2 separate regions of the Homo sapiens genome follow, and region 1 is linked to region 2. The links come from fine-mapping of genetic effects on gene expression. A gene starts in region 2. The other region holds a variant in brackets. All regions are shown on one strand. Distances are from middle to middle. Region 1 has its middle 4.5 kb from the start of DSTYK. Region 2 holds the start of TMCC2-AS1 (TMCC2 antisense RNA 1).

Region 1 (4,394 bases), 21 kb before region 2:
AAAGTTTTGAACGGTAAGAAGAGAGGGTTTAAGTTGGTATAGAAAAGTATTTCCTGGCTGGGCACAGTGGCTCACACCTGTAAACCCAGCACTTTGGGAGGCCAAGGTGGGTGGATCATGAGGTCAAGAGTTCGAGACCATCCTGGCCAACATAATGAAATCCCGTCTCTACTAAAAATACAAAAATTAGCTGGACGTAGTGACGCATGCCTGTTGTCCCAGCTACTCAGGAGGCTGAGGCAGGAGAATCGCTCAGGCTTGGGAGGCGGAGGTTGCAGTGAGCTGAGATTGCACCACTCTACTCCAGCCTGGCGACAGAGTGAGACTCTGTCTCAAAAAAACAAAAACCAAACAAAAGAAAAGTATTTCCTGGCCACGTGCAGTGGCTCATGCCTGTAATCCCAGCACTTTGGGAGGCTGAGGCGGGTGGATCATCTGAGGTCAGGAGTCTGAGACGAGCCTGGCCAACAGGGCAAAACCCTGTCTCTACTAAAAATACAAAAATTAGCTGGATGTGGTGGCATGCACCCGTAGTCCTAGCTACTAGGGAGGCTGAGGCAGCAGAATTGCTTGAACCCAGGAGGTGGAGGTTGCAGTGAGCCGAGATCATGACACTGCACTCCAACCTGGGCAACAGAGTCAGACTCTGTCTCAAAAAGAAAGAAAAGTATTTCCTGAAAGTGTCGAGAGTTAAACAATTAATGAAGATGAACACACAGATCTACTTTTGTTCCCTCCTAGAACACCATTAAAATGACAGTAATGGGATTTTTTAAAGCACAAAGCCAGGATAATGAGAGGAGTTGGTAGCAAAAAAGAAAGTGGAAGATGAAAAGCAAATGGGCAAGTTTTAACTAAGAAACCTGAATCCTAAACCCAAAGTAATAAAGTTGAGATCCAACCTTATATTGAAGAATCCCCTAAGTCTTAGAAACTGGTGACAGTAGGTCCCCCCACTGCCTATTGTGGAAGTATAGTTGCTTAAGAGCAGTTAAATCCTGAGGTCACTTCCTCATCTTCAACTTCCACCCCACCCTCCGAAAAACAAGACTGAAGTATTTATTCTCCAGAGAGGGTTAAATAGCTCTCTGCATAAACAGGGAGATAAGTGAATGTATGGATATTGGATACCCTCTTCATTCAATTCCTAGATCTTTGGCTACCAGCTGTTTACCCTCCAAAGATAAAACTTAAAGTGTCATCATGAAGGAATATGAGCAGCCCAAGAAGAAAGACCCAAGTTACTGACATCAGAACTGAGATTTTTGTCTGGCTGTTTGTTTCACTGCTGTATCTCCAGCACCTAGAATAGTGCCTGTCACTTAGTAGGTACTCGTTAGATATTTGTTGAGTGACTGAGTGTTCACTGTAGATTGATTGATTGATTAAGTAGAGGCAGGGTTTTGGGGTTTGCCATGTTGTCCAGACTGATCTCGAACTCCTGGACTCAAGTGATACACACCTGCCTTGGCTTCCCAAAATACTGGGATTACAGGCGTGAGCTATCATGCCCAGCCAACATTTTTTAACATTCAGGAAATCACAAAAGAGAAAGTAAAAACCACTCATACTTTTACTACCCAGAAAAAAACAGTAGGTTATATTGGTATCCATTAATGTTGTCATTGGAGGAAACGAGATAGGTGAGAAATATTCTTTCTAACTTTACTTTTCTATACAAGTTCCTCTTGGTTTGATGATTTCTGGAGAGATTCTGAAGCCTTGATCTTCCTGTTCATGTAGGTGGAAATCATTTTTTTAGAACACCATAAAACATTAACACTTAATTCTTCCATATGAATTAAGAACAGTTTACTAAGAGAAAGTATGACTATTTTCTGTTATGCAACATAAAATCAGAATCACAAATCCAAGAATTTTAAAAATCTACAAATTGAAGGAAAAATAAAGAATTACATATTATTGAGTTTTATTATATTATATTGAAAAATTATATTGATAAATATAAGTATTTCTTTACTACTTGTTTGCTCATTATCATCTTCTAAAGTTACCAGCAGGTAGGTAATATTTAGCTCCAAAAGAGAGGACAAATTATGGAAGAAAAGATGAAAAATACAACCCATTAACCCAATTTTTTTCTATGAATTGGGAAAAGTCACCATTATCGAATTTAACAACCAAACATACTTTCTTGAATCTCAATACTGATTCCCAAGGGAACATGTTTGAGAATCCCTGGTTCTAGACAATCTTGCCCTCTTCCCTGCCTATAGTGTATAATGCTGGCAGTGTTGCAGAACAGTGCTTCTGAAACTTCAGTGTGCTCATGAATCATGTGGAGATCTTGTTAAAATGCACTTCTGATTTAGTAAATCTAGGGTGGTGCTTGGGATTCTGCATTTATTTTATTATTATTATTAATTTTTTTTTTTGAGACGGAGTTTTGCTCTTGTTGCCCAGGCTGGAGTGCAGTGGCATGATCTCAGCTCACTGCAACCTCCGCCTCCTGGGTTCAAGCAATTCTCCTGC[C/T]TCAGCCTCCTGAGTAGCTGGGATTACAGACACACGCCACCAAGCCCAGCTAATTTTTTGTATTTTTACTAGAGATGGGGTTTCATCATGTTGGCCAGGCTGGTCTCAAACTCCTGACCTCAGGTGATCCACCCACCTCGGCCTCCCAAAGTGCAGGGATTACAAGCATGAGCCACTGCGCCCAGCCTATCTTATTTTATTCTATTTATTTTATTTATTTATTTATTTTTGAAGCAGAGTCTTGCCCTCTGTCACCTAGGCTGGAGTGGAATGGCATGATCTCGGCTCACAGCAACCTCTACCTCCCAGGCTGGAGGTAAGTGAAAGTGCTTTGAAATGGAAATTGGCCAGGTGTAGTAACTCAGGCCTGTAAATCCCAGCACTTTGGGAGCCCAAGGCAGGAGGATTGCTTGACCCCAGGAGTTGGAGACCAACCTGGGCAACATGGTGAAACTCCATCTCTACAAAAAACTTAAAAATTAGCCAGGTGTGGTGGCACACGCCTGTAGTCCCAGCCACTTGGAAGGCTGAGGTGGGAGGATCACCTGAGCCTGGGGAGGTTGAGGCTGCAGTGAGCCATGATCATGCTGCTGCACTGCAGCCTGGGCAAGAGAGTGAGACCATGTCTCAAAAAAAAAAAAAAAAAAAAAAAGAAATCCTGTAAAAATGTAGGGAAAAGCAAGGGAATCAGAGAGAATCTAACCCGAATTTCCAGTCCTGGCCGTGCTGCTTACTTATTTCATGATCGTAAGCAAATTACTTAGAGCCTCATTCACTTCATCTGTAGAGGAGAACTAATACCCAACTCACAGGGTTGTGAAGATTAAATGACATAATGTTTAAAGCAGTTAGCACCTTACTTTGCACACAGACATGCTTAGGAAATGTTTTCTGTCTGTAGTAACTATTCACATTCAGGATTATGTATTTTTACAAGGAGGATAGCATTTCCAAGAATATTTTATGAGATTCTCTACATGAAGGTTTATTAACTTGAAGATTAAAGCTCTATAAAATTGAACTGCTAAATGCTATTTAATTATACATCAAATATCATTCCAATGCTGAATATTTCATCAGTGCCATGCCTGGCTGTTAGGATGTAGAGCATTGGAGGGAAACAATCAAAGGGAATTTGGTATAACTCTAAACAGAGATCATCTTTGTTTCACTGCCAAGTAGAAGAACAAGGTTTTCCAGAAATGTTTTAGAGTAACTGATCCAAAGCTTTCCAGAAGCCCTGAACATAGTTTTGTCACAATTCATTTTTCATCAGTAAGACAGTAGATCGGCATTGCTTTTCTTTTTCTTTTCTTTTTTGAGACGGAATTTCGCTCTTGTCACCCAGGCTGGAGTGCAATGGCGCAATCTTGGCTCACTACAACCTCCGCTTCCTGGGTTGAAGGGATTCTCCTGCCTCAGCCTCCCAAGTAGCTGGGATTACAAGCACCCACCACCACACCTGGCTAATTTTTTGTTTGTTTGTTTTGAGATGGAATTTCGCTCTTGTTACCCAGGCTGGAGTGCAATGGTGCAATCTCGGCTCACTGCAACCTCCGCCCAGGTTCAAGTGATTCTCCTGCCTCAGCCTCCCGAGTAGCTGGGATTACAGGAATGCACCACCATGCTCAGCTACTTTTGTATTTTTAGTAGAGACAGGGTTTCTCCATGTTGGTCAGGCTGGTCTCGAACTCCTGACCTCGGGTGATCCACCCGCCTCAGCCTCCCAAAGTGCTGGGATTACAGGCATGAGCCACCGGGCCCATCCCCATTATTGCTTTTCTAAGTCTAAATGGCTGTGATCCTTTCTCCACTATGTTATCTGACAGTTCAGTGGAACCCATATTTGGTTTATTTCCCTACCTACCTGGAATAACACCTTATAATTGGTTATATTCTTA
Region 2 (4,394 bases):
ATTTTGAGTAGAGATGGGGTTTCATCATGTTTGCCAGGCTGGTCTGAAACTCCTGACCTCAGGTGATCCACTCTCCTCGGCCTCCCAAAGTGCTGGGATTATAAGCGTGAGCCACTGCGCACGGCCTAGAGCAAGATTTTAAAGAAGGGGTGGGACATTTATTACCAAACAAGAGAAGAGGGGCTTTCTAAATGGGGGAAGTGAGGTAGCAAGTGCTTTTGTAGGGTCTTTGCCCTGTTTGACTAGAATGATCAGGAACAATGGAGGGTAGTGCAAATGCTGAAGTTAACTGTTTTGTCCCGCTTGCACCTTATATGAAGCAGGCAGAGGGTTGGAAGGCCCAGGATTGCCTCCCCCCCACCCCCTCCAGCCTAGGTAATATTCAGAGCAGCCCTCTATGTGGGCTCTGGGGGAACTGGTGACCGATGGGAAAGCATGTGGCAAACGAAACTCCCTGTTCTCCTGCCACATATTGAGTTCTAGATTAATTCCCAGCTGCCCTAGTTGTTCTAGTGGGAACTGTCTGGCAGGCTCAGTATTTACAGAATGTGCTTCTTTTTGTGTATCTAATTATGTCTTCACTGCCAATCCCATTAACAAGAATCTCCTTCAGCAAGGAGTTGAAATATCTGATAGGACCTAAATTTTGGGCTGAAGTTTTCAAAGTGTGGGGTTATCAGGAGCTGGGGAAAAGGGCTCAGGCAGCTTCTCAGTGGTGGTCTTAAAGGCCAACTCAGAACTCATTTCTGTTTTCATCTCTCCCTTAAGAAATGGCATCTGCCTTTGAAATCCCCATAGACTACTAGCATGCTACATTTTTGGAATGAGGCCATAGCTGGACAGGGTCCACCTTTGTCAGCCAAACACTTAAGTCTCTCTTCGTGTAAGAAGTTAGAACAAAGCTGTTGGGGGATAACAGGTATGTTTTGTGACTGTGCTAGAAAAACAGTTATTTGGCTGGGCGCGGTGGCTCACGCCTGTAATCCCAGCACTTTGGGAGGCCGAGGCAGGGGGGTCACGAGGTCAGGAGTTCGAGACCAGCCTGGCCAGCATGGTGAAACCCCGTCTCTACTAAAAATACAAAAAATTAGCCAGGCATGGTGGTGTGCCCGTATAGTCCTAGCTGCTCGGGAGGCTGAGGCAGGAGATTTGCTTGAACCCGGCAGGCAAAGGTTGCAGTGAACGGAGATCACGCCATTACACTCCAGCCTAGGCGACACAGCAGGACTCTGTCTCAAAAAAAAAAAAAAAAAAAGAACAGTTATTTTTAAACCAAATGACTAAAGGCTTCCTTATTCCAGCCAGGTTAACTGAGTGATGTCCACCAGGGAAAACAAATCTGGCTGTAAGGACATGAGCCCCCTCCCAAGCCCTCCCTAAGCCATTTGTGAAGACATCACATACATTCTGGCTCCTTGGTCTGTGTTCATCTCCTTCCAAGCCAACTCAATCTTGGCGGTTACTAAGATAATAGAGTGAGAAGAGGGTTTAAACTGCAGCAGGAGAAATCTGAGTTAGACACAAGAAAAGGCTGTTGGAGCATTTGAAATCTTTGTGAAAGGTTATGTCTTTGGAAAAGGTAGTCATCTAAGGATTAAAATCACCTTTGTAAGATGGATTTGTAGAGACTTGGATAGTGGCTGCTCAGAAAATAAATGAACAAATAATTTACCTAGCTGTCTTCCATGTTGGTGTTGAGGCCTCTGCCAGGTAATGTTAGGGACACAGAGATGTAGGAGCTGTAGCTCCTGCTGTCCAGTCACTCATATTGTCATCAAGGGTTCCATCCGTCAGCAGGTGAGAAGTTGGATAACAGTCAGACAAAGCACTAGAAGCGATGTCACAAGGCAGTACACGATTAATTGCAAAATGAGTGGTGCAGATAATGAGCGCTTATGTGTTCAGAGCAGGGCGAGATCGCTGCAGACTGGTGTGATCAGAGAGGGCTTTATGGAGTGGCGAGGTGGTGAAGGATGGGTAGGATGCAAAGAGGCAGAGAGAGGGCACGCCATGCTGGGAACTTTAATAAAAGTCTTCTATGTTGGTGTGTGCTGAATCAGTTCTGCCTAAAGACATGGTGGATGAGGTGACCTTTTCCCACTTGCTTTGGCTCCAGGCTGAATTCTCTAAGCAATAAAGGAAAGAGGAATCAAAATAAAATTGAGAATGGGGGAATTTTTTGCCCGTGTGCCCATGAGTTGAGTTTTTTTTTTAAAATTTCATCTGTGAGGCTGGGGAATAAATAAATGATTCCAAAAATCTTTCATCACTGGGTTTCCAGTAGAAACTCCAAGTGGGCCTGAACAGTTGCAGCTGCCTACTGTACACCACTGTGATCATCAGCGCCAAACCTGGGGTAATGGTTCCTCTCCTGCTCCCACTCAGGCTCCCCACCCAGAGCTTCTTAAGGGCAATTGGAGACTTCTTCAATCCACTTTGGATCCTAAGAGTAGAACTCTGTGGGTTTTTACAGTGATTAGTTCTCTAATGCTGGCCCTGTTTCCATAGAGACCCTATAAATAGAGGAATGTTGGCGACCTAGGCTGGCAAAGGCTCAGGGTGACCCAGTCACCCCACTGAACCCTCACAGCCAAACTGTTGGTAGGGCGGAAGGAGTTTCAAACCCAGGTAGGAGGAAGGGCTATGCAGTCAGCTGCCAGGTGGGATAATTAGCTATAGATTAGTGTGACTTTAAGCTTTCCTGGGATTTGTTGAGAACACACGTACCTGTAAAAATTAGAAACCACTTTTGGTCATTTTTAACCAGATGGTGCCAATGACACTGTACCCCAAGGCATTTTAGTTTTGTATTCATGCAGCTGTGTTTGCAGATTTTGGAGCAAACTTCCCCTTTGGGGGACCCACACCCAGGGAGAAAGACGGATGAAGCCCAACTGTTCAGAAACCACAGCCTTCTCAGGAAGGATCTTTCAGAAGCCATCTAGTCCTCCCTTTTTTCCTGAAAGGACAGTGCCACCCAAGGAGATGGGGCTCTTCCTGCCCTTTCAGATAGTTCCAGGGGAGGGACAGCCAACTCCCCTCACTTCCTTCCCCGGGGCACCTCACCCTGGGAGGCTCTCCTTTCTGACTACCTTATGGCCAGTTCTGGGGACGGCACTTCTTGCTTCGGTCTTACAGATCATGAAAGCCCTGTTTGTTTGCCACCTCTAACTCTGAAGCATCTCAGCTCTCTAATGCATGGCTTCATTTGGCCACCAAAATGGTTTCTGGCAGCCAGGGAAAAGCAAAAGTCAATGTGGAAAAGCAAGTGACATTTTAGGAGCTGGAACCTGTTAGTCAGAGCAGGTGGTGCTTTCTGCTGCGTTGGCGGCTAAGTTCCCTTAAGCTAGTCACCATGGTTTTCCTCACTTCTGAAACTTGTAGCTGGTTATGTGTATGTGCTGAGTTTTTTTTTTTTAAAACACTTACTGTGTTATGTCAAAACTCCTTAACCATCTCCTCCCTGACACCCACATGCAGAAGCGGCCCAGCCCTTGCGTCACTTTGCTGTTCCCGCCTCGCACCTTATCAGTGAGGAAAAACCCCTTCATTTGGAGTAATCTCCTCTCTCTGCACCTTGTTCTTTGACTTCCTTTTTGTTATTTCCCTCCTGCCTGCCTCAGACTTTAATAGATTCCTCGGTCTGCTGGGACAAAGGTCCTGGGGTCTCCTGGTCACTTTCCCTAGGTTTCCTTCAGCTGCAGGACAGCTCAGGGAGGTGGGAAGTAAAGACTTTATAGTTGAGGGTCTTGTCCCATAACATGGGATGGGCAGGTCACAACAGCAGTTCAGGGGACCTAACAACCCTTGACCCAGGCATTTTTGTTTGGCGCCTGCCTCTGATACTATTCTGGGACACATGCAAATACCCTATCTACTTTAAATCTTAAGTCTTGAAATCAGTGTATGGGCCCATGAAGGTAAATTCAATTAGAAGTCGGGGGTTTCTCTGTGTGGCTTGGATGAGCCACTTAGCTATGCTGTGCCTCCGTTTCTTCATCTGCAAAATAGACACTGATGCTGTGACATCTCACATTCCTAGCTCCTGAGATTAGGCTAGTGTCAGATTATAATGACAGTATAAATCGGAACGCACTTTGCAAAATGCTGTTGTATAAATTTTAAAAGTAAATTGACCAAGGATTTTAGGCTCCAAGGCAATATGGCAGACATCGGTGGCCACCGTAGCTCTCCCCAGCACCTCCACCAGCCTCCCGGGGATAGGGGAGAGGAAATGCCTCAGAACTCTAGGACCTCTGCTGAAGTCTTTAGAAGGGAAACTCTTTCTGCCTGAGTGGATCCTCAGTGTTGGAGAAGCCAGTTTAGGAATGGGGGGAGAAGAGGAAGGGACCTGGAATAGAACGCTAGAAAGACAATTCGTATTATGGAATGTG

What was found. PIP is the estimated chance that this variant, and not a neighbour inherited with it, causes the effect. A credible set is the group of variants that fine-mapping cannot tell apart.
Region 1: its variant is the best candidate, but not a certain one, in a credible set for the expression of TMCC2-AS1 in testis (GTEx, PIP 0.67).

The regions. Positions count from the first base shown.
Region 1 is chr1:205,213,962-205,218,355 of GRCh38, forward strand. No RefSeq gene overlaps it. Among named protein-coding and RNA genes, the nearest start is that of DSTYK, 4.5 kb to the left of the region's middle. RefSeq lists an enhancer at 127-271 and a cis regulatory region at 199. The variant C/T (reference allele first, on the strand shown) is at 2,494.
Region 2 is chr1:205,234,833-205,239,226 of GRCh38, forward strand. It overlaps TMCC2-AS1 (TMCC2 antisense RNA 1), which reads right to left and starts at 2,459. Exons shown (of 3, transcript NR_183258.1): 1 at 2,352-2,459; 2 at 1,673-2,126. All of the region lies in intron 1 of TMCC2 (transmembrane and coiled-coil domain family 2), which reads left to right.